Regions from separate parts of the Homo sapiens genome. Here region 1 is reported to be linked to region 2. The links are microRNA targets in miRTarBase. Many come from high-throughput screens and were not tested one by one. Region 2 holds a microRNA gene; the other region holds the end of a gene's coding sequence.
What was found. The annotated mature microRNA hsa-miR-499b-3p reads AACAUCACUGCAAGUCUUAACA and lies in region 2 at 1,291-1,312, opposite strand. An mRNA with a match to its seed (bases 2 to 7 or 8) in the 3' UTR can be bound and repressed. Matches are read on the target gene's strand: a 7mer-m8 pairs with bases 2 to 8, a 7mer-A1 pairs with bases 2 to 7 and ends in A, and an 8mer does both.

Region 1 (3,000 bases), not on the chromosome of region 2:
GGAGAGGGCCTCTTCCAGCCTGGACTCCATGCCGGGGCCCGCAGGGAGGAAGCTCAAGCTTGCCTGCGGCAGAGGCTGGCTCAACCAAGATGACGTCTGGGTGAACTACTTTGGTGGCATGGGAGAGTTCCCCAATGCGCTCTACACCCACTGCTACAACTGGCCGGAGATGAAGCTCTTTGTGGCTGGGGGGCCTCTCCCTTCAGGCCTCCATGGGAACTACGCAGGCCTCTGGAGTTAAGGATGGACGCCTTGTTCTCAAAGTGCACAGGTTTACCTTTCAGTTCCGCCTGACTTTCCTTCTTCATGCTGCATTTGTGCTTTTAACTTTGTGTGGCTTTTGTCTTCCAGGTGGAACCAGTCCAACTTACGTGTGCTTAATGTATTAGGCAGAGAAAGAAAGAGAGAGAGCGGGAGCGAGAGAGCACAAGTGGTCCTTTCGGCAGTCAAAACTTTGGCTTTAAAACTCTCATTCACGTTTCCCAACAGCAGTATATTTTTGCCTTCTCATTCAAAGAGTTTTGGCTAAACCTTAATTGTGTTCTGTCTTTCAGTGATTCACATACCCTCCTTCTTTAGGTTGATGTAGTCATAGTCTTCACTACTATTCAGTACGTTAGTTTTATCAATATTGCAATAGTGTTCAGATCTTTTACACATGTTAGATGTGTGGTGTTTTGGGGAAATGTGAGCTACAAAGCATCTTTGGGGTTGTTTTGAGGAACTACCCATCATTTATAGCCTTACTCTAATTACAAAATGCAGTTCAGGTTCTAGATTGCCACCATTCTAGAGTGTGGCACACACCATTCTAGGGCGTGATTCATTTGGATGTTGGAAACTCAATGTCTGTTGTTTGTATAGTGTTGATGTGTAAAATGCTTTAAAAATATGTTCTGTTAGTTAGAAATCTTACAATGTTGTTCATACTATTAATCAACATTTTTGGTTATTCAGTAAAACTTTACTATCCTCAGGCCCTCCGTGTTCTTATTTAAAGCCGCTGTATTATGGCCTGCTTTTCTATGCTACAGATTTTCAGAACTACTCAATTCTGGTCTATATATGTGGTAGTGCAATCAGGGAGGTATTTTTGGGGGTATATGGGGTACACATCTCTTTAAATTCAGGTAGCTATTTACAGTGAAAAGCCAGTTGTGGCAGTTGTGCTCAGAGTAGGTGTTGATTTTTTATTACTGTATACATGGATAATTCTGGATCCAGTATGTGATGTGTTGCAGAAAAATAAATAAAATGTGTTCATCATCTTAGCAATTAAGTGGCAGACTTAAGTTCTTAATACTTAAATATATGCTTTCTTTTTTCATTTGTCTTTCTGAGAACGTATTTATCAAAGTCAAAACTTTCCAGGACAGAAGCTGAATCTGAAGCATTAGCTATGCAGACATTACTTTGTACATCTCTTTTTGAAAATGAAACTTATAAGTTAAAAGATTAAACAACATCTTGAATACGTTATGAAAATATACTTGGTGTAAGTTAGGATGGCTAAGTGTTTTTTAAAGTTGACTGAACAAACCATTTTTCATTTATACAAATATACATGTACTTATAACTACTTACATATATAATATATTTGTATATCTGTTTGTATATGTTACTTCCCATGTGAGAAGAAAGCATAGATATATATCATTTTATATGTGCAGCTATTTCTTATATATTGAACTACACATATTAAGACTTACCACTTGGTCTTTATTTGTGTTTTGTTTTATGCCAATTTAAAATAATTTTAATACAAGCACATGATCAAAAAACCATACAGTATAAAAAGTATACAGTTAAAAGTAAATCTCAAACCCCGGGGTCTCTAGTTTCCAGCCCATAGATTAGCACTAGTATATTTTTTGCATATACATATTTAGATTTAGTCTATATATATACAAGAACACATGTATGTGTGTATGGAATTTTTATACAAATAATAACATACTGTATGTATCTGTGCCTTTTTAATCACAAAATCTTAGTGATTTTTTCTTATACTTATCTACTTAATTTTATTGCATGCTGTTCTATTGTGTGATTGGAATACACTTGACTTATTCATTACACCTTTGATGATCATTTATGTTGGTTCTGGTTTTCTGTTACTGTAAACTATTCTGCAGTGATTACTTAAGTGTATACATCTTTGTGTACAAGCATAAATATATCTGCAGGATAATTCCGAGAAATGAAATTACTGGTTCAATGAGTAAGTTCATTTTATATTAATAGCCATTGCTAAATCATCTTCCAAGGAGTTCTCACCACCTTAACCTCCTACAAGTAATGGATGCACACCTGCTTTACCACACCCATGCCAACAGTGTGTCACCAAACTGTGCTCTTTGCCAATCTTACATCTACTTGATCTTGATCCTTTCTTTCTAAGCCACTGTGGCTGAGTTAATTCAATTTGTTGTCAGAGTACCAAGTGGGTTCTGAAACAAAGAACAAGAAAATGAAGGCAAGCAGTAAAAATGCTGCCACGCTAAAGGAAGAGAGTACCCACCATTCAGGCTCATGTACCTGGAAATGGATTACACACAGCTACTTTCCTTATATACTTAGCTGGACCTAGTAGGTTTCCCTGGTCTGTTGCACCCAGTTTAAGTTATACCCAACGTATGAGATGTCACTGAAGAAAATCCAAGAAGGAGACCACGAAAATCTGAACTAGGATAGTGGGGTAAGTGTGGAGAGGGAGAAAGTTATTCAAAACAATGAGGGGAAATAAAAGGAACAAACAGTATTTCATGTGAAAGATGAGGAAAACCAAAAAAATTAGGTGGACTCTCAGGCTCTGACTTGAATGTGAATGAATATTGACAGCAAATAAAAATAAAGAAAATAGGCATAGATAGTATGGGGGAGGATGATCAGTTTAACTTGGGACTTACTGAATTTGAGGTGCCTCTGTGACATCAGGAGAACATACCCAGTGAAGAATTGGCTGTGTACCCCAGGATGCAATTTCTCACTTCTGGGAAG
Region 2 (3,531 bases):
TTTTCTTTTATAGACACAGATTTCATTTCATATCCTACTTTTTCTCTGAAAATGTATTTTGAATGCTGCTCATGGCAAGAGTAGTTCATGCAGTGGATGAGTTTCATACGATGCATTTCTGCAGTCCCCTACAGCTGGGCGTTTAGGTGATTGACAGCTTTTTAAATATTATGTCAGCACTGAAGACATTCATCTTCCCACTCTGCAGGTTAGAAGACTGAGGCTTAGTGATGTCGGAGGGCCCCACAGCTAGTGAGTGAGGAAGCCAAAATGTGAACTTGATGGCTTTTTTTGACTTACCCCATGTTTGTGTGTGACAGCCATGGCTGTGGCGGGGGTGAGAGTGGGTACAGAGATGCCAGCTTGGGTTTGCCATTGTTAGAAGTGAAGATGACACCTCAGTGCTGCAGATTTTGCAGGAGGGGACTGGAGCCAAGCCACAAACTTTTCTCTGTTAGGAGATGGGTTCTTGGAGTGGGTGTGGTGTCTGACCATCCGGGGAGATGGCTGAAGCTGGGGATCTGGGAAGGCTCCCAGAAGGGAGGTGGCCTGGGGAACCAGGGGTTCAGTCCTTCCAGGATGGACTGGCTTGATGGTGGCTTTTCAAGCTCGTTCTGTTCCCAGCCACTGGGCATCCTGTCCATCCTGGAGGAGGAATGCATGTTCCCCAAGGCCTCAGACGCCAGCTTCCGGGCCAAGCTCTACGACAACCACGCGGGGAAGTCACCCAATTTCCAGCAGCCTCGGCCTGACAAGAAGCGCAAGTACCAGGCCCACTTCGAGGTGGTCCACTACGCAGGCGTGGTAGGTGCTTGCTGGAACCCCAGCCCTCGGCCAGGCTCCTCCCGCCCTGCTCCAGGTCTCCCACCCGGGCTCAGCACCTGACTTGTCTCTCCAGGTGCCTTACAGCATTGTGGGCTGGCTGGAGAAAAACAAGGATCCCCTGAATGAGACCGTGGTCCCCATCTTCCAGAAGTCACAGAATAGGCTCCTGGCGACTCTCTATGAGAATTATGCGGGCTCCTGCTCCAGTGAGTATGGAGGGACAAGATCTCCACTCTGACAGGGGCCCACAGAGCGACATTCCCTGGAGTGACCAGGCCCCTTGTCTCTATTAGCTGAGCCCCCCAAGTCTGGGGTGAAAGAGAAGCGTAAGAAGGCAGCATCGTTCCAGACGGTGTCCCAGCTGCACAAGGTAAGGCCCCATCTGGGAGACAGACCCTCCCTCTTGGCAGCCTCCAGCCCCGTCCTTCACCCCCTGCCCTGTCCCCTGTGCCTTGGGCGGGCGGCTGTTAAGACTTGCAGTGATGTTTAACTCCTCTCCACGTGAACATCACAGCAAGTCTGTGCTGCTTCCCGTCCCTACGCTGCCTGGGCAGGGTTTGTGGGGAAGGGGTGGGAGCCCTGGGGCTCTGGGAGGGACGGGGATTTGGCAGGGAAGTGAAGACTTTGGTGGTGGTGATGGGAGACAGCGAAGGGTCTCCCATCACCAGAATGAGAGTGAAAGAGCAAAAGTGCAGGGCACTTAGGGCCCTGCTCCCGTCTCGGTCCTGACCACTGCGGCATCCAATTCTGGTTCTCTGCCCCCTTTGTGCCTTTCCCTCACTCTTCCCCACTGCCAGGAGAACCTCAACAAGCTGATGACCAACCTGCGGGCCACACAGCCCCACTTCGTCCGCTGCATTGTCCCCAACGAGAACAAAACCCCAGGTAGTCACCCAGGGCTGGCCTGGCTGGGGCCGGGAGGCATCATGGGAAGGTGACAGGGCAGAGGCCGGGAGGCTGAGTACATCTTCCCCCTCACCTCGCAGGGTCTCCACTGCTGCTTTTTCTCTGGGGCCTGCGGGTGTGCCTGTTGACCTCTGACCTTTTCCCCTCTCACGTCCAGGGGTCATGGATGCCTTCTTGGTGCTACACCAGCTGCGCTGCAATGGGGTCCTGGAGGGGATCCGGATCTGCCGCCAAGGGTTCCCCAACAGGTTGCTCTACACCGACTTCCGGCAGCGGTGGGTGACCCCTTCCCCCTGCCTGCTGCTCCAGGTGGAGGCCTGAGGGGCTGGGCAGGACACACATATCAGAGCCCAACAGACGGTCCCCTGTCTGGAGGGGGAAGCAGGGACTGTGAGGGGCCTGGCCAGGTATCCCAGCAAGACATGGGGGTGGCTCAGACCTGGCCGGGGACTTGGGGAGAAGTGAATAGGCTTGGGGCAAATAGTGGAGGTGGAGCCTACAGGCCTCGCTGATAAGCTGGACATGGAATTCTGGATGCAGAAAAGACGAATGATTTCTAGTTTTGGGAGTGAGCAACCTGGGAGCTACCAGTGGTAGATTTACTGAGCTACAAAAACAGGGTTTTTTGATTTGGAGGAGAGGTGAAGGGATACTGGTTTGAGCTCTGTTTTGCGTGTATCAGGTTTGAAATGCCTCCAGCAGACATCCTAGAAAAGTCATGGGGGAGATTGGGATTATCAATCTGGAGCTCAGGGCAGCGGGCAGAAAGGATGCAGATTTGGGAGTTGAACGAGAATCATGTGGACGAGGCTTCATGAGACACCTGGCACATAGCAAGCACCTGGGCAGTGCTGCCAGCTCCTCCCCGTTCCCTCAATGGGCAACAAGCATCCATCGTTCCTTCTCCCTCCAGAAGTCATGGTGTCATCCACACTATCCTTTGTAAACAGAGGTTCACACAGATACCATACACGCACACACACGCATGGTGCTGTGACCTTGTTTTTTCTAACAGTCTGGCCTGGAGATCGTTCCTTATCCCCAGGCGTATGCCTGCCATCGTCATCCGTTTTTCTTGGCTGTGAAACATCTCACAGTCTGGTGGACTGCATGCTTTGTTTAATGAGTCCCCCTCATGAGGGGCCTTCACAGCGTGGCTGTAGCCCACCTGACCCACACAGCCCTGTGCATGTGTCCACTTAGAAGTGGGCAGGCTGGGAGCCCTGGCTCTTTTGCATTAGAATTTCCCCCCAAATGGGCTGGGCGCGGTGGCTAACGCCTGTAATCCCAGCACTTTGGGAGGCCGAGGCAGGCGGATCACGAGGTCAGGAGATCGAGACCATCCTGGCTAACACGGTGAAACCCCATCTCTACTAAAAATATAAAAAAATTAGCCGGGCGTGGTGGCGGGAGCCTGTAGTCCCAGCTACTCGGGAGGCTGAGGCAGGAGAATGGCCTGAACCCGGGAGGCAGAGCTTGCAGTGAGCAGAGATCGTGCCACTGCACTCCAGCCTGGGCGACAGAGCGAGACTCCGTCTCAAAAAAAAAAAAAAAAAAGAATTTTCCCCCAAATGTTTCTTCAGTGATAGGGTACAGCATGTCACCTTCTACTAATATTTTTTGCCTTTAAAAAAATTTTAAAAATAGTGCATGCCTTCTGTAAAAAGCCTCTTTAAAAACTTAATGAATGCATTTAAAATCCCCCCAAGGTTGTGTTTTTTTTTTTTTTTTTGAGACGGAGTCTTGCTCTGTCACCCAGGCTGGAGTGCAGTGGCAGGATCTTGGCTCACTGCAACCTCT

Region 1: the mRNA of DCAF12L2 is a reported target of hsa-miR-499b-3p. Seed matches in the 3' UTR shown: 7mer-A1 at 582-588 and 7mer-m8 at 1,228-1,234.

What each region holds. Positions count from the first base shown.
Region 1 is chrX:126,161,774-126,164,773 of GRCh38, reverse strand. It overlaps DCAF12L2 (DDB1 and CUL4 associated factor 12 like 2), which reads left to right. Exons shown (of 1, transcript NM_001013628.3): 1 at 1-1,275. The coding sequence ends at 241. Among named protein-coding and RNA genes, the nearest start is that of DCAF12L2, 3.0 kb to the left of the region's middle.
Region 2 is chr20:34,989,116-34,992,646 of GRCh38, forward strand. It overlaps MIR499B (microRNA 499b), which reads right to left and starts at 1,357; the gene lies at 1,285-1,357. It overlaps MYH7B (myosin heavy chain 7B), which reads left to right. Exons shown (of 45, transcript NM_020884.7): 20 at 625-804; 21 at 899-1,031; 22 at 1,119-1,195; 23 at 1,623-1,710; 24 at 1,889-2,006. MIR499A (microRNA 499a) reads left to right here and starts at 1,261; the gene lies at 1,261-1,382.